4 linked regions of the Homo sapiens genome follow. The protein of the gene in region 4 purifies or fractionates together with the protein of the main gene of each other region. This does not show direct contact. Each region holds a gene or a part of one and is shown on either strand. Other genes may lie near its edges.

What was found. The genes of interacting proteins can lie anywhere in the genome.
Region 1: the proteins of CT55 (region 4) and USP4 purify together in Homo sapiens (affinity purification with mass spectrometry; 3 studies listed by BioGRID and IntAct, with this or other methods). This does not show direct contact.
Region 2: the proteins of CT55 (region 4) and CNOT11 purify together in Homo sapiens (affinity purification with mass spectrometry; 3 studies listed by BioGRID and IntAct, with this or other methods). This does not show direct contact.
Region 3: the proteins of CT55 (region 4) and SYNM purify together in Homo sapiens (affinity purification with mass spectrometry; 3 studies listed by BioGRID and IntAct, with this or other methods). This does not show direct contact.

Annotation. Positions count from the first base shown.
Region 1 is NC_000003.12:49,333,554-49,337,053, reverse strand, and holds part of USP4 (ubiquitin carboxyl-terminal hydrolase 4), read left to right. Parts: intron 1-1,457; coding exon 1,458-1,585; intron 1,586-3,500.
Region 2 is NC_000002.12:101,251,442-101,255,685, reverse strand, and holds the start of CNOT11 (CCR4-NOT transcription complex subunit 11), read right to left. Parts: upstream 2,801-4,244; 5' UTR 2,722-2,800; coding exon 2,208-2,721; intron 1-2,207. UniProt on the Homo sapiens protein: Component of the CCR4-NOT complex which is one of the major cellular mRNA deadenylases and is linked to various cellular processes including bulk mRNA degradation, miRNA-mediated repression, translational repression during translational initiation and general transcription regulation.
Region 3 is NC_000015.10:99,103,866-99,107,879, reverse strand, and holds the start of SYNM (synemin), read right to left. Parts: upstream 2,801-4,014; 5' UTR 2,681-2,800; coding exon 1,871-2,680; intron 1-1,870. UniProt on the Homo sapiens protein: Type-VI intermediate filament (IF) which plays an important cytoskeletal role within the muscle cell cytoskeleton.
Region 4 is NC_000023.11:135,168,100-135,173,663, forward strand, and holds the start of CT55 (cancer/testis antigen 55), read right to left. Parts: upstream 3,300-5,564; 5' UTR 3,073-3,299; coding exon 2,979-3,072; intron 1,680-2,978; coding exon 1,495-1,679; intron 1-1,494. UniProt on the Homo sapiens protein: Plays a role in spermatogenesis, possibly acting in the regulation of the autophagy pathway.

The DNA.
Region 1 (3,500 bases), on a different chromosome or scaffold from region 4:
CTCGGCCTCTCAAAGTGCTGGGATTACAGGTGTGAGCCACTGCGCCTGGCCTTGTGTGTACATTTTTGGAACTCCTTTGGTCCTTAAAGGAAAACTGAAGTGGGTGGTGTTTCTAACCCATTTTCAGAAAGAGCATTAGTTTAGTGCTGTTCATGTCAAGCAAAACAGTGTAACCAAACTGTCTGCCTGGAGTGGGACTTCTGTAAAGATCATTATGAAATTAATGACTTGTGGCCGGGTGCGGTGGCTCACGCCTGTAATCACAGCACTTTGGGAGGCCGAGGTGGGCAGATTACCTGAGGTAGGGAGTTTGAGACTGTCCTGACCAACATGGAGAAACCCTGTCTCTACTAAAAATACAAAATTAGCCAGGTGTGGTGGCACACACCTGTAATCCCAGCTACGGGAGACTGAGGCAGGAGAATCACTTGAACCCGGGAGGCGGAGGTTGCGGAGAGCCGAGATCACACCATTGCACTCCAGCCTGGGTAACAAGAGCGAAACTCTGTCTCAAAAAAAAAAGAAGTTAATGACTTGTTTATTAGCAAACATGATTTTACCCATGAAAAGACTCCATTTAGACTGAGTGTGGTAGCTCATGCATGTAATCACAGCACTTTGGGAGGCCAAGGCAGGAGGATCACCTGAGATCAGGAGTTCGAGACCAGCCTGGCCAACATGGTGAAACTCCATCTCTACTAAAAATACAAAAAAATTAGCTGGGCCTGGTGATGCATGCCTGTAATCCCAGCTACTTGGGAGGCTGAGGCAGGAGAATTGCTTGAACCCAGGAGGTGGAGGTTGTAGTGAGCCAAGATCATACCACTGCACTCCAGCTTGGGCAACAAGAGCGAAAACTCCGTCTCAAAAAAAAAAAAAAAAAAAAAAGAGGCCAGGTGCAGTGGCTCATGCCTGTAATCCCAGCACTTTGGGAGGCCGAAGTAGGCGGATCACCTGAGGTCAGGAGTTTGAGACCAGCCTGCCCAACATGGTGAAACCCCGTCTCTACTAAAAATACAAAAATTAGCTGGGAGTGGTGACAGGTGCCTGTAATCCCAGTTAGTCAGGAGGCTGAGGCAGGAGAATCGCTTGAACCTGGGAGGCAGAGGTTGCAGTGAGCCAAGATTGTGTCACTATACTCCAGCCTGGGCGACAGAACAAGACTCCGTCTAAAAGAAAAAAAAAGAAAGACTGCATTTAAATAAGCATTTTGAAACCACTTGTTTTCTTTCTTTTATTCACTCTTTGAACAATCATTTCACTTAATGGATGCATACCCTGGGCCAGACTCTCTGTGCCATGTGGGGCCTGGGCCCTGCTCTTGCTCTTGTGACAGTGTTTTTTAGTGGGTATTGCATATGCCCCAAGTGGAAGGACCATAAAAAAGATTAAGGAAGCAGCTGCAGAAATTTATAATCTCAGCTTTTCTGCTACAGTAAATTTCTGTCTCTCTCTAGGTATCTTATTGACAGCCGGTGGTTCAAGCAGTGGAAGAAGTATGTGGGCTTTGACAGCTGGGACATGTACAATGTGGGTGAACATAACCTATTTCCTGGCCCAATAGACAACTCTGGGCTATTTTCAGGTATAGTAAATGTTGCTTTTCTAGCTAAACATTCACCTGGGCAGTGGCCTGATGTTATGTGCATCTGTAACATGGACGTTGTGAACTTTCCTAGTGTGAGGAGATAGAAACAAGTATCCTCATTTTGCATCTATAGCAGAAGTCTTTGCAAACCCTTAATGAGAAGTTAAGCTACTTTTTTCCCTTAAATTAACTGCATCTGATAAGAGTATGCTTCTAACATTTTAACTTTCTCTCTTTGCAAATTAGTTCTGCTAGCTATTTCACATTTTAAGTTAGTATATGGAATGGAAAGAAATAGGATGTCATTTTGAAATTGTATCTAAAATTTAAGAACCAGAATTTTTTGTTACCTTTGCAGTGGAACAAATTGTAAACCTGTGAACTTTCATCAAGAATTCCTGTGATGGCTGTTTTTATCATATAACTAGTGTGAGGAGAGGTTGAAGGTCAGTAGACAGAGTTATGACTGTAGTCAGCTCCCAATGGGAACTGTGGGAAAAGCGACATGTAACACACTAGAGCTTGCTTGCACTTGTACATGCACTGAGATGACAGAGTCAGCTTTTCCCAGGCTTTCTTTTGCCTGACTTCAGACCTCTTTAAAGTCATGATAGAGGTGATCTGTCATGGGTGTCAAAAATCAGGGCAGTGCCAGGAGTGGTGTCTCACGCCTGTAATCTCAGCACTTTGGGAGGCCAAGGCAGGTGGATCACCTGAGGTCAGGAGTTCGAGACCAGCCTGGCCAACATGGTGAAACCCCGTCTCTACCATGTTGGCTAGGCTGGCCTTGAGCTCCTGGGCTCAAGCTATCTTCCTGCCTCAGCCTCCTTAGTCACTGAGACTACAGTGTTCTACCACTCTCAGCTGTTTTTTAAGTTTTTTGGTAGAGACGGGGTCTTGCTATGTTGCCCAGGCTGGTTGAACTCCTGGCCTCAAGCCATCCTCCCACCTTGGCTTCCCAGAGTGTTGGTGTGAGCCACTGTGCCTGGCCTAACTTGGATATTTTTAAAACTGAGCAATGCTTCAGCTCAGACCTTGTTTTAGGAGAGGTCTACATGGTATAAACAATATCATTTACTTTGTTTCCTGAAATAGGTCAAATGGTGGCACTATGCCACGAAGTTGCCCTAAGGAATCATTTCATTATGTTCACATTTTGTTCTTTTTCTCATTTTTATGAAATGGAGAATTCTTAAGGTTTTAAATTCAGGCATACTTTGGCTTATTGTGCTTTGCTTTATTATATGTTGCAGATACTGCATTTTTAGCAAATTTTGTAGGTATTTGGCAACGCTGCCTTGACAATCTGTCAGTTCCATTTTTACAACAGCATGTGCTCACTTCATGTCTCTGTTACCACATTTTGGTAATTCTCAAAATACTTCAAAGTTTTTCATTATTATTTGTTATGGTGATCAGTGATCAGGGAGCTTTCTTTTTTTTTTTGAGACGGAGTTTTGCTCTTGTTGCCCAGGCAGGAGTGCAGTGGCATGATCGTGGCTCATGGCAACCTCCACCTCTTGGGTTCAAGTGATTCTCCTGCCTCAGCCTCCCGAGTAGCTAGGATTACAGGCATGTGCCACCACGCCCGGCTAATTTTGTATTTTTAGTAGAGATGGGGTTTCTCCATGTTGGTCAGGCTGGTCTTGAACTCCCGACCTCAGCCTCCCAAAGTGCTGGGATTACAGGCATGAGCCACCATGCCCAGCCAACAGGGATCTTTCATGTTGCTATTGTAATTGTTTTGGGGCATCATGAAGGGAGCCCATGTAAGACAGTGAACTTAATTGGTAATTATTGTGTGTATTCTCGCTGCTTCACCAACCAGCCATTCCATCTCTCTCTCTCTCCTCAGGCTTTGCTATTGCCTGAGACACAATGACACTGAAATTCGGCCACTTAGTAACCCTAA
Region 2 (4,244 bases), on a different chromosome or scaffold from region 4:
TCAGAGTCATCTGAAAAGCATTCTGAAGACATACCCACTAAATGTCTTACCCTAAACATACAATATCAGCAGCTCTGGGAGTGGAGTGTAGGCACTGATATTTTCTCTTCTATGTTATCTACACACCATCCCTACCTACTTTAATAATGGTATAATAGTGGGTAACACTCACAGGTACTTTTTTTTTTTTTGAGACGGAGTCCCGCTCTTTAGCCCAGGCCGGATTGCAGTGGCACAATCTTGGCTCACTGCAAGCTCCGCCTCCCAGGTTCACGCCATTCTCCTGCCTCAGCCTCCCAAGTAGCTGGGACTACAGGCGCCCGCCACCGCGCCCGGCTAATTTTTTGTATTTTTAGTAGAGACGGGGTTTCACCGTGTTAGCCAAGATGGTCTCGATCTCCTGACCTTGTGATCCGCCCGCCTCGGCCTCCCAAAGTGCTGGGATTACAGGCGTGAGCCACCGCGCCCAGCCCACTCACAGGTACTTTTATTCTTTGTAACAACTCTACCAGCTGGGAATTGTTACTATTTGCATTTTACAGATGAGGAATCTGAGGCACAAAATGGTTAAATATAATCCATCCATGGATTCCTTCTCTGGTGACTGCCATCCCACCTATGGCAAATCTGTGTGTATAATGCGGTCTACGGACTAGGTGTGGGTTTAGATTCACTGTACATGAGAATGACATTATATAAGTCACGGTTTCTTTGCCTCACTTGTTCTTCAGAATTCAAAGGGCCCTCTGATCTAAATCCCAGTGTCCCAATCCTCTAATACAAGCACCCTAGGGTGGTGGTTGTCTGTGTGTGTGTGTGTGTTTAGAAGCTGTCACCCTAACTCACTGCAGCCTCAAACTCCTAGGCTCAAGTGATCCTCCTGCCTCAAACTCCTGAGCAGCTGGGGCTACAGGTGTTAGCCACCCCATGCCCAGCAAATTTTTTATTGCTTTGTAAAGACAGGATCTTACTATGTTGCCCAGGATGGTTTCAAACTCCTGGCCTCAAGCAATTCCCACCCCCCAACCTCCACCACTTCGGCCTCCAAAAGTGCTGGGATTATAGGCGTGAGCCACCTAGCCAGGCCTAGGTGGTGAGTTTTGACCACAAACCTGTGTTACATTCACTTTCTGGGCAGTCACAAGCTTCTTAGAAGCAGGTTAAGTACCTGTACCCTAAAGGCATCTCAGGCCAATACAAAGGGTTGCCCTTCTTAGATAAGGGCACTACAGGACACCTATCAGAAGATCCTGATGGGATGCCCGGCAGGAACACTAACTAGAAACGCGGCCCTCCTGTACCATAAAAACAAACTCCTGGTGTTACTTCAAAATCTACTGCCTAGCCTTGACTCACTGTATAGCAGGCCCTACCTATACTGGTTAAGGAATGTAAGATCAAGCTGTTTCCTATCTCTGTGTGCTTCCTCCACTACACTGGTTCCTAAATCCTTCAGGTCCCGTTGTCAACATGCCATTTTTCTTGTTTTCTGACTGCAAGTCTTCTCGCAAAGCAAATCCACATAAAGCATCACCTGCTTGAGCTTAAAAACAAAAAAAAATGCAGCCTCGCATCTAACCTACTAGTTTGATCTCACCAATGCCACACAATAGTAAATACATTTTACATAATGTATACCACGTATGCACTTTACATAATGTCCAGTAAGTCATGTGTTTCCAAACGCGAGATCATCAATTTGAGACTTTCTATCCTCTGCCCCCATCCCTAACAGGCTAAGAAAGGCGGCTGCAAAGTCTTTAAGGTGTTTCATGTGTATTTCCGCCCACCAACTTCTTCAGCTTCTTAATACTGACTTCCACGTACTCCTTTGAGACTAAAAACCGGGGACAGATCCAGTCTTATCATTGGTTTTAACTTCACACACCACAGACGGGTTTTCGAAGAACGAACCGTATTTGAGACACTAAACATGTCAAGACCTACACTGAGCTGTATGATGTGATGGGGTGTATAGAGAAATCATTTTCGGTGTCACGAACTTGCAATTAAGCTACCACCTCTCCATTCTTTAGAGTTAAGGCGGGGAGGAGTGAGGGGCGTGGGAACGCAGAGAGAGGCGGAAAAAGAGGATGATCATTTCACAGGGATAGTTAATTTCCCTTTCAGGTGAGTTCCCAGCAGCGCAGGTGGAAAGCTGCGGAATCTAACGCTATCCACACGGCACAGCTGGCTTCAGGAGGTACCTGAGAGCGGAGGGCGGTCGGGTTCCTGGCCGCCGCGGGCGGGCGGCGCGGGGTTGAGCAGGTGCGCGAAGCTGGCGGCGAAGGGGTTGGCGGCCAGCGGCTCGGTGCGGTACATCTCCCAGAGCAGGTAGAGCGCCGTGAGGCGCTGCGCCGCGCTAGGCAGCAGGTCGGGCTGCTGGAGCAGCATGACGAGCACCGAGCCCAGGCGGAAGTGGTCGGCCTTGCTGAAGTAGTGGTGGAAGGCGGTGGACAGGCCCTCGAAGGTGCTGCCGCCGCCCGCCTCCTCCGATATGATGCTCAGCAGGCTCGAGAGCTCCTTCGGGGTCAAGCTCATCCTGCCCGCGGGGCCCCCCGGGCCTCCGCTCCCGGACCCGGGGCCGCTTGCTCCGCCTCTGCCGCCGCCGGAGCCCCCGAAGCCGCTCCTGGACGCCGACCCTGCCGCTTCCCGGGACCCTCTTTGCTCCGCGGCGGTGAGAAGCCGGCCAGACGCCGCGCTCGCCCCTCCGCCGGGCATCAACCTCGCTCCCCTTCCCCTCTTCCCGGCCCGAGGGGCCCTGGCGCCGGCTCGCTCCGTCCCCGCGGCCGTAAAGCGCGCTGTTACACGACAGCGTCGCAAACAAAACACGTCGGGGAAACCAGACCGCCGCGGAGAGGGACAGCGCCCAGCGAAAGCGAGGCTGATGGAGCGAAGCCAGGAAGAGGATGCGGAGACGCGGGGTAGGCGGGGCGAATTGGCAGGAAGCGGGGGCGGGGCCCGGGAAGGGAGGGGAGGGGCGGGGCGAGGTCGGGCTGGTGGCGTTCAGGGTTAGGTCTGCCGAGGTCCCGCGGCAGGAGAGCCCGGGGACTGCATGCGTCTGCGCAGCTGCGAGGTTAAGCCGCCCTTTGGCGGTCCCCAGGACGGTTCCTGGTGCCAGACGGTCCCAGTAAGTGCTGTCTACGTTATTATTTGGAAGAATGCACCTCAGATGTTAACTATTTTCTTAATATAACATCCGTAAGTATTCGTCGTAAAAAGTATTGTAAATGCAGGCCGGGCGTGGTGGCGCGTGCCTGTAATCCCAGCACTTTGAGAGTCCTAGGCGGGAGGGTCGCTTGAGCCCGGGAGTCCCAGGCTGCAGTGAGCTGTGATCACCACTGCATTGCAGCCCGGGCGCTCTGTCTCAGAAACATTTTTTTTAATTTAGTAAATGCAAATATACCACACATTTCACATAACCACGGTTAATTTCTAGTCTTACACTCATTGCAGAAATGGAATCATACTGCACTATGAGCTTTTTTGTACATGGTTTTTTCTCTTAACATGATTTCGAGAACATGTCTCCAGTTAATATTCATTTACAAAATTGTTTGCTGTGCCACGTTTTACTTAGATTGCCCTAGGGCACTTATCCTGGGCACTTAGCTGTGCATTAGAAACCCACGGGGAGACGTTACAAATACCTAGTTCCACCCCCAGAGATGCTGATTGAGATATTAATAAACCCCACCTCTTCAGGTGAGTCTGAGGTGTAGTCTGGGCTGAGAACCACCAGGTGGCATTTCCCAGACTTGCCCGGTCCCTAAACCTACAGAAACGTACGCGTATTTCGCCAGTGATTACCACCAGCGATTCTAATTATCTAGTTAAGAGCCACCTCAATTCTTTTTTAAAACATATTTTTATTTTATTTTATGTGTTTTTGGGGAGAAAGATATTTTATGTAAAAAAAATTTTTTTCATCTTTTTAAAACTTGTATTTCAGTAGTTTTGGGGGTACAGGTGGTTTTTGGTTACATGGATAAGTTTTTAGTGGTGATTTCTGAGACTTTGGTGCACCCGTCACCAGAGCAGTGTACGCTGTACCTGTCAGGCCTCTGAGCCCAAGCCTGCACATATACATCCACATGGCCTGAAGTAACTGAAGAATCACAAAAGAAGTGCAAATGGCTGGTTCCTGCCTTAACTGATGACATTACCTTGTGAAATCCCTTCTCCTGGCTCAGAAGCTCCCCCGCTGAGCACCTTATGACCCCCGCCCCGGCCTGCCAGAGAAC
Region 3 (4,014 bases), on a different chromosome or scaffold from region 4:
AGCAAATTCCAACAAGAGAGAAGTATCACTGGATGGCAAACGGAGAGTGGGGTCCCAGCCTCACTCTGAGGGCAGGTATGACCTCAGGAAAAGCACTTCCCCGGTGGGCCCTGGAGTCCCTGTGTCAAAGGAGGGCTGCACAGGATTCTAACTGCACTTCAAGTCCCCATGTCTCCTCCAGTCAGGGGAACTCTGCTTTCATATGGCTCACATTACGAGTTCCACTGAAGGTTTCATTAGTGGGGAAAAGGGCTTTGCCGCTAAGAAAGAACACTGGAACCAGAATTTGAAGGTCTGAAATGTGCCAAGTGAGCTGTGGCTGTGAACGCATGGTGACGATTTGGTCCACACAGCGTGGCTCAAAGCAGCATTTTCTAAACCTGCCTGCACAGCACAGACCCCTGAGTTGGTAGCGAGGGTTCCCTACAAAGGGGTTCCCTGGGCAGTAGGTTTGACAGATACTCCTTTTTGGAGAGTCAAAATAACCACTGGTCAAATCTCCATGAATGCCACATTAAGGCACTTTTTAACTTTCACTCAACAACGAGTATAGGACCTGTGGAACTCAGACCCCTGGCCACTGTCATTGCAAAGGGACACAAGTGCTCACAAGTGGAAATCGGTACACACTGGGTCAGTCCCTGTCCCTGCTCTAGCTATGGCAAAGCCCCAAGAGAACACTTTGAAAAGTTATGAGGCGGAAGCCAAACAAAACCCACAACTCAAAAGATTAAATCCCAATGTAGTACCATATTGCATTCTATGATTTCCCATCTAGCCTGTAGCTCTTTGCATACTGAAAGTCTAGGGCAGTGCTGGGGACCCAGGGAGAATCAACAGGTATTTACTCATCACCTGTGGATACCTGTCACATCACCGCAGTCATTCCATATGACAACCCCCATGTTCCTCTCACTTCTAATTTTTAAAAGTCAGTCTCAAATCTTTAACTCACAGCTGCAAACTGTACTCTTAAAATATTTGTGAAATTGTGCAGATGTTATTTCCATCTGTCCTTTTGAGAACTACTGATAGTGTGATTTGGGAATATTTCCAATTCTGGCTGAGGCAGGGCAGGGCGAGGGCCAAACGCTAGGGCTGGACTGGGCATAGTTTACATCAGCCACAGGTGTCACCCCGCCGGTGTCAGAGGGTTTGCTTCCCTGAAATAGTAACTGTTTATATCACTCTGCACTTGTAATAACATCCTGCCAAAGGGCCCCACTTTCCCACAACTTTTACACTACGCAGAGATCTGACGTCAGCGTGTGCTGTGAGCAAAACATCTTCGATCAAGCTCTGTTCTGCATGAGGGTTGCTGCCCCTCCCAAGATCAAACAAGGCAGCCGCCCAGAGAGCCACAACTGCGGCTTCCAACTGGGAAATCATATTGGCAAAATAAAAACCGTTTTGGAAATTAATTTGAGTTTTCCCCTGAGGAGCGCTATAGACAGCGGGGCTACCATAAGCCGTCACTTCTGCAAGTGAGAGAGGTTTCTCGGTTGACTCTTAGATCTGGGTCTACTGAGTCTACGGAGCACGGAAAATGGAAGGAAAACCTAGAGCTAACAGGGTGGCCTATCAGGATGCGCCCAGTCACGCTTGTCAAGAGTTAAAGCAGCTGCCACCTAACCCCATGACGAGGACGGGGCTATCCGCTAGGACCTGCCGCCCCGCGCTCGCCCGCTGAGTCGATGGACCAGCGGACCGAGTCCGGGTCCCCATGCCATTCGGGCACCCTCTGGGCGGGCCCTACCGGTCCGCGACGCCGCGCCCCTGGTGAAGGGGCCGCTGCCCCACGCCGTCAAGGGCAGGGTGCTGGGGCGACGGCAGCGGGTATGGGGTCAGCGCGCCATCCCCGCGCACGGACCTGCCGCTCCTCGGCCTGTATCCCGTACTCCTCGCGCATCCGCAGCAGCGCGTCCTCCAGCCGCGCGCGCAGCTGCTCCAACCCGAGCGCCTCGCGCCGCAGCGCCTCTGCCTCCTGCGCGCACAGCCGCGTCTCTTCCTCCGCCTGGAGTCTGCTCTCCTGGCCGCGCCGCAGCGCCTCCTCCAGCTCGCGCACCTCGTCCTCGTACAGCTGCACCGTCTCCCGCCACGACTCGGCCACCAGCAGTGCGTAGCTGTCGTGCACCTCCCGCAGGCGTGGCGGCGGCGCGGCGGGGCCGGTGGCGCGGGCGCGGAAATGCATGGTAAGGCTGGCGGCGCGCGCGCGCAGCTCCCTCACGTCGCGTTCGTGGGCCGCGTCGAGGCCTCGGCGCTCGGCCTGCAGCCGGCCCAGCAGCGCCTCGAGGGCGGCGCGCGCGCCCAGCGCCTCCTGCAGCTCGCGCTGCTGCGCACCCAGCTCGGCGTCCAGGCGGCCGCGGGCGGCGCGCTCCTCCGCATCCAGGCGCTGCAGCTCCCGCAGCTCGCGCCGCAGAGCGTCCCGCTCGCCCTCCGCCAGCGCAGTGGCCCAGCTCAGCTCGTCCAGCTGCTGCCGCAAGCTGCGCGCCTCCTCGGCGCAGCGGGCCTGCCCCTCGGCCCACAGGCCCTCTCGCCCGCGCCGGCCGCGCAGCTCCTCCTCCAGGAGTAGGTTTTCGCGCTCCAGCTCCCGCACCCGACACACGTAGTCATAGAGCCGGGCGTTGAGCTCCTGGAGCTCGGCCTTCTCGGGGCCCGTCTGCAGCCGCCAGGACAGCATCTTGCCGGGCGTGCGGGGTTCTCGCGGCTGGCCGGCTCCCTCCTGCCCTGGTCTTGTCCCGGTCTCGTCCTCTCCGCCGCGACGCTCCGGCCTCGCCGCTGCCCCGGAGGCCCGCAGACTGGGACGCGAGCGGGAGAGCCCAGGCACTTAGCGGACGGGGCGGGCAGACTGGGCGGGCGGCCTGGGCGAGGGCCGCGGCCTCCAGCCAATCAGAGCGCGGCCCGGCGCGGCCTCTGCGGCCGCACAGCGCCCCCTGCCGCACCTTGGCGGCCGCAGGTGGTCGGTGCGGGCAGTCGGGTAACAGCGGGCGGGGTGGCGGGCTAGCCAGGCCGGGCTCAGCGAAGGGACGCCGGAGAGGGCGTCCGGGAGCATACGAGTGTCCTGGCCTTGGTGGATGGAAATAGAAGCCTATTGAGTTGCTGTGGTGCTGGCGATTTTGGAGCGACTTCTTACCCGAGGCCCTGGAGATTGGTGGCTTTTCTATTTTTAAAAAAACGATATGGGCCGGGCGCGGTGGCTCAGGCCTATAATCCCAGCATTTTGGGAAGCCGAGGTGGGAGGCTCGCTTGAGCCCAGGAGTTCGAGACCAGCCTGAGCAACATAGAGAGACCCTGTCTCTACCAAAAAAAAAAAAAAAAAAAAAATATATATATATATATATATATATGGAGCCTGGCGTGGTGGTGTCACACGCGCTGCTTGGGAGGCTGAGGCGGGAGGATTACTCGAACCCAGGAGTTCAGGGCTGCAGTGAACCTGATTGTGGCACTGCGCTCCAGCCTGGGCAACAGAGAGAGGCCTCATCTCATATATATACATTACACATACATGTGCATTAATTTTTTTTTTTTTTTTTTTGAGACAGAGTGTCGCTCTTGTTGCCCAGGCTGGAGTGCAATGGCACGATCTCGGCTCACCACAGCCTCCGCCTCCCGGGTTCAAGCGATTCTCCTGCCTCAGCCTCCCGAGTAACCGGGATTACAGGCCAGCGCCACCACGCCTGGCTAATTTTTTTTTTTTTTTTTTTTTTTTTTTTTTGTATTTTTGGTAGAGACGGGGTTTCTCCATGTTGGTCAGGCTGGTCTCGAACTCACGACCTCAGGTGATCCGCCCACCTCGGCCTCCCAAAGTCCTGGGATTACTGGCGTGAGCTACCGTGCCCAGCCTAAATAATCTTTTTAACTTAAAACATAAATATATATCCATTTACCAGTATTTTAATGTGCAAAATACTTCTCTTGATGTCAGTTGACAGGAGTCCCAGTTGCCCTTCTTATACAAGCTACCCTCATAGTACATTACATTTTCCAAAACGAATTTCTTTCATTTGGAGT
Region 4 (5,564 bases):
CAAAGAGAGTGTCATCAGTGTGTCAAAGAGATGTCAGCACTTCCATGTTTGTTGCAGCCCTATTCACAATAGCTATGAAATGAAAGCAATCTAAGTGTCCATCTACGGATGAGTGTATAAAGGAAATGTGGTATAAATACACAAGGGAATGCTATTCAGCCATAAAACAGAACAGAATATTGCCGTTTGAAATAACCTGGATGAACCTGGAGAATGATATGTAAGTGAGATAAGCCAGTCACACAAAGACAAATACTGCACGGTCACATTCACATGCAGAAGATAAAAAAGTTGATCTCATAGCAGTGTAGAGTAGAATGGTGGTTACCAGACGCTTGTGTTGTTAGGGTGGACAGAGGAATGAGAAGATGTTGGTGAAAGAACATATAATTACAGTTGTATAGAAGGAACCTTTTTTAACTGTCCAGAATATATACAAACAGAAAGTGGATAAGTGATTTCCTGGAGCTGGATGTTGTTGGGGGAGGGGACAGTTGGGGGAGCACGAAGAGCTTCCTTTTGAGTAATGAAAATGTTCTAAAGTTGATTGTGGTGATGATTGCATAACTCTGTGAACAAATTAAAAACCACTAGATTGTTCCCTCTAAGTGGGCCAATTGTATAGTCACGTGACTTATATCTCAATAATGCTGTAAAAGAATGAAAGACATAAAGCAAAGGAAAAAGATGGTATCAGACGAAATACTACAAGGGCTTCATACACAAACTTTCCTATTACAAATCTAATTTTCCTACCATAGAGATAGCCATAAATATCCCTATTGTATCAGTAGGTCTAAGAAATAAAACTTACTGTAATCTCATGAAGACCCTTAATAATTCCAAATGAATGATGAGACTGCTTTTCCTTTCTCATATGTGCAAAGATTTCAGATCGATAGTATTGTTGTCCTTGCCTATATGGGCAGATGGGCAGTCTCACCTCCTATTGCTGAGAGAATCAATTAGTACAATAGAGCTAAAGAATAATTTCATAATAGCCACTGAATGGGCAAATATCTGGGCTCAGGTGATGTTGCCAGGACTCCGTAAATCTGCAAATGTTATTGAATTGTACCCTTAAGAGAGTTTTGTGGTTGGTGAATTATAATTCCATGAAGCTCTTTTTAAAATATTTACAATGCACATGGCTTGACATAGAAATTCCACTGTTTTGAATGCACACTACAGAAAATGTTTTTTTACCTGATAAGGGAAGTTGTAAGATTATAAAGAGTTCAATAATTATTATTGTTACTCATATTGTTTAAAGACTAGAATAATAGATAAGTAAGCTTTTATGTTTTACAGCACAAATTACTACAAATATTACAACAGAAGAAGCTACAGCTTCAGAGGAGGGGGGCTTCAAATTGCAGTCTACATCCACTCTACGGATCACAGCAGAGATGTCGGATTAACTCAAGAAAAGAAAGATGGAGAAAGAAAGCCCACTGGGATAAGACACAATTCCCAAACTCATGCACATCTCACCTTGATTGCTCTCAATCCATAATGTGGTTTATCTTCTTCCACAACCACATTAACTTTTTGTCCAACTTTTAGAGGCACGTTGCCAGTCACAACATCACTACTGAAGTAGATCGACTCATCAATCATGCCATAATCACCACAGAAACTTGTGACAACTCCCTGCACAGTTGTCAACTGGGTGTCACCTACAAGATAAAGAAACAAGGTCACATTATTAGCCTCAAATGCAAACACCTACTACAAGTAAGTCTTACACTCACCATCTGCATAACCCTGGGCAGAGAAGTTTTATAACGTCTCTGACCTTGTTTTCATCTGTCAATCCACAACAATCACAATTTCGCCTAATAGGGTTGTTGTAGGTTTTTAAAATATTTTTAAAAATTTATTAAAATTTAAAAATTTTAATTTTTAATTATTTTTTAATTTTTTGAGCAGAGTCTGGCTCTGTCGCCGGGGCTGGAGTGCAGTGGCGCAATCTGGGCTAGCGGCAACCTCTGCCTCCTGGGTTCAGGTGGTTCTCATGTCTCAGCCTCCCCAGTAGCTGGGACTACAGGTGTGTACCGTCACACCCAGCTAATTTTTGAATTGTTAATAGAGACGGGGTTTTGCCATGTTGCCCAGGCTGGTCTCCAGCTCCTGGCCTCAAGTGATCCACCTACCTGGAACTCCCAAAGAGCTGGGATTACAGGTGTGAGCCACCGCGCCCAGCTTACGAATATTAACTGACACATGCACATCAACTGTCGAGAGCTCTGAGTGCCTTGCACAAGAGTGTGTAAATGTTACCTGTTAGCATTTCTACATATGAGTCTTTAAGCTTCTGCTCCTATTATATTCCTTCATCATTATCACCAACATGATGAGTAGCACCTTCTATAGATACTTAACCATCTCAGCAGACAAAGTACTAAAAGATATCTGGAGATTGAAGGCTAGCCCAAAACGGCATCTGAATGGTTTTCTTTATTTCTCCTTCTTCTTCTTCTTCTTTTTTTTTTATTCTGCACAAGCCTAGCTGATCAGCAATACTTAGGGATCAAACCTCAGCAGTCGCCGGCAGGGGTTCTCTGCCTTCCTTTGGGATCAGATAAGTATGAGGCATCAACTTGGCTTCAAATTACATTCCCGTTTGGGATACAAGCCTAAATTAACTCGCAAATTAGGGAGTTTCTCGCCTACTGGAAATATAAATAGGCATGTGCTGTGCGACCACGTGGGGGAAAAGCACAGGCGGTACAGACCCCAAGGTCTTCTCTGTCAACACCTTCCCGCTTTAGATGGACAGGAGAGTTTGGGGGTTGGTTCTCAGGGAATTGTTGAGGACTCGGGTTGCCTCGGGTTGCCTCCCCATGCACGCACAAGATGGAGCCACCGTCACGTGCAGTACCCACCCGAGTTACAACAGCCTCATTCCGGGGGTGAGGAGAACCCCTATTGGGAGGCTTCTGGGGTGGGGGACAAGGGGACACACAGAGGAATACCTTGTGGGAGGCCCTGCTGCTGTGGGCCCTGTCGCTCTGCAGGGTCGGCCGTCCTCCCGTAGAAGGCCAAAGCAAGTCTCAGAAGCCTGAGCATCGTCCCAGTTGTCACCACCGGCCTGGGCACCGCTTGTGGCAGATGAAGCACGAGGCCTCCTCAGTAAGGGAAGCCCTCAGGTCACGGCGTCTCCTCAGGGACTCACTTCCTGCTTCTCCTCAGACACTGTGGCATGGGACCCACCCGTTAGTGAGCCCCCCTCAGGAGAGTCAGGGACACCGCAGCCTCCAAAGGAGCTCCCAGCTTCTCCGCTGACTTCTCCCTCTGAGCATGCGCTCGTCAGGGCCCGCCTCTACCACTGTCCAACCAATGGGCGTGCAGTGGGTGGGCGGGCAGGTTCTTGTGGCTACTAAAAGGCGATGGGTGGGAACATCGTGGCTTCTCCCATCAAGGCTGAGGGAGCCATTAGGATGGCCTGGGGAAAATGGCTTGGGAGCTTGGGTTCTGCATTTACTAAGGAGATACAGGGCTCTTCTCTTGGGTTCCCTGGGAGGATGGGTGCCTGAAACACCGGCTGTGCAACCAAAAATCCTGCTCCTGCCCTTGTATTCGTGGTGCTTAGCATAAGGAGTCACCACTCAGTGGGCGGTCAATAGTTACTCCTCACCAGGGATCAATTTTGTGGAGAGAGGGCATCATGTGGGTAGGCAATGTTTTAGTGATGGCAAGTACGTGTCTTGTGTACTAGGACTGCCATTTTTAGTCCAGTGATAATTTATAATAGAATCCTTTTATGATCATTGCTACCATGTACTCATCGCTTACCTGGTTATGCTTACATTACTCTGATATACACATTACCCTTATTCATTCATTCAGCAAAACTTGTAGGGCACTAACTGTGAACCAGACACTGTTCTGTGTTCCTAAAATTTGTTAATGAATGAAAGAGTCAAGAATCTTCACCCTGTGAGGGTAGATTTTTCACAGGATGACGAAAGGGTGACACTAAACATCACATAATAAAATATATGGTATGTTAGAAGGCAATAAATGCCATGGAAAAATATAGCAGGACAAGGGAGATCCACAGTGCTGGGCATGGGGTATTGGATTGCACTTTACAATAGCATGGTCAGAGTAGCCCTCATTGGAAAGCAATAGTTGAGAAAGATGTTGGAGTTAGCCAGGCAGCTATTTTTGGAGGAGCCGTTCAGACGGAGGGCACAGTTTGTGCAAAGACCATACAGCAAGACTGTGCGTGATGTATTCAAAGAAAAGCAGTGATTAGAGCAGAGGCAGTGAATAGCTAGAAGAGTGGGAAGTATGGTAAGAGAGATAATAGAGGTTCAGGCTGCATGTGGGATAGTGGGGCACTGGAAGTCCTTTGGCTTTTATTGTCCATGACACGTAAAGTCCCTGAAGGATTTGGAGCCTCCAGGGATCACTCCAGGTGCTTGGTTGTGAACAGGCTGGAAGAGGTCAGAGCAGGAAGCAAGGAGAACAGTTTGGATGATTCTGATGCAATCCATGGGCACTGTGGATGAAACCTGTTTGTCTTTCCTCTCCTACTGTGAGAACAGGTAAGAGCATTGCTGAAGATTATCATCTGGTTAACAGGATCGGTTGAGGGCTATCTATGTCTCAAAATGTAACACAACTGTGTTAATTTCCTAGGGAGGCCACAACACATTACTACGACTGCGTGGCTTTAAACAACAGAAATTTATTCTTCTGCAGTTCTGCAGGCTATGAGTCTGAAATCAAGGTTTCCGTGAGGTTGGTTCTTTCTGGCAAGCTCTGAGGGAGAGTTTATTCCAAGATTCCGTAGGTTGCCAGTAGTCATCGGTTGGCTTCCTTCGGTTGTAGATGCATCACTCCAATCTCTTCCTCCTTCATATCATGGTGCTCTTCTCCATCTGTCTGTGTGTCCAATACACCTCTTCTTATAAGGACACCACTCACTGGATTAAGGGTATATGACTAATCCCAATCCTGTAGGACCTCATCTTAACTTGATTTTTTTTTTTTTTTTTTTGCAAAGACCCTATTCAAAATAAAGTCACATTCACAGGTACTGGAGCTCAGAACCTGAGCATATCTCTTTCAGGGCAAAATTCAACCCACAGCAACTGCTCTTGTAAATTTTGATTACTCCAATATTCTATGATTATCAATGAAAAATTAGGACACACAGGTAAGCACACATTTCCTCTTATTTCTCTGAGAAAACACAGGCCATGAAACAGGAGCCCCTCTGTGAAACTCCTGGCACCCATCCTGGCTTTCTCTTCCTTCTCTTTTGTAACAATGGAAGGACATCGCAGCCCCTGGCCAGGGCTGAAACTCCACTGAGCACATGGAACCATTCTCTTGACACATTTTCTCTGAGGATGTTGCTTCTATTGCTGTTGCCTCTCTTCATCCTGCATCAACAATCTTTTTTTTTTTTAATCTTTGCCTGCAAAGGAATAACATACAAACATACACAAGAATCACCCATCTTAAAAACTTCACAAATAACTCCCATCTTAAAAATGTACATAGATAAATAAGCTTCCTTGGCCTCATTTCCCCTTCAGTCCCATTCT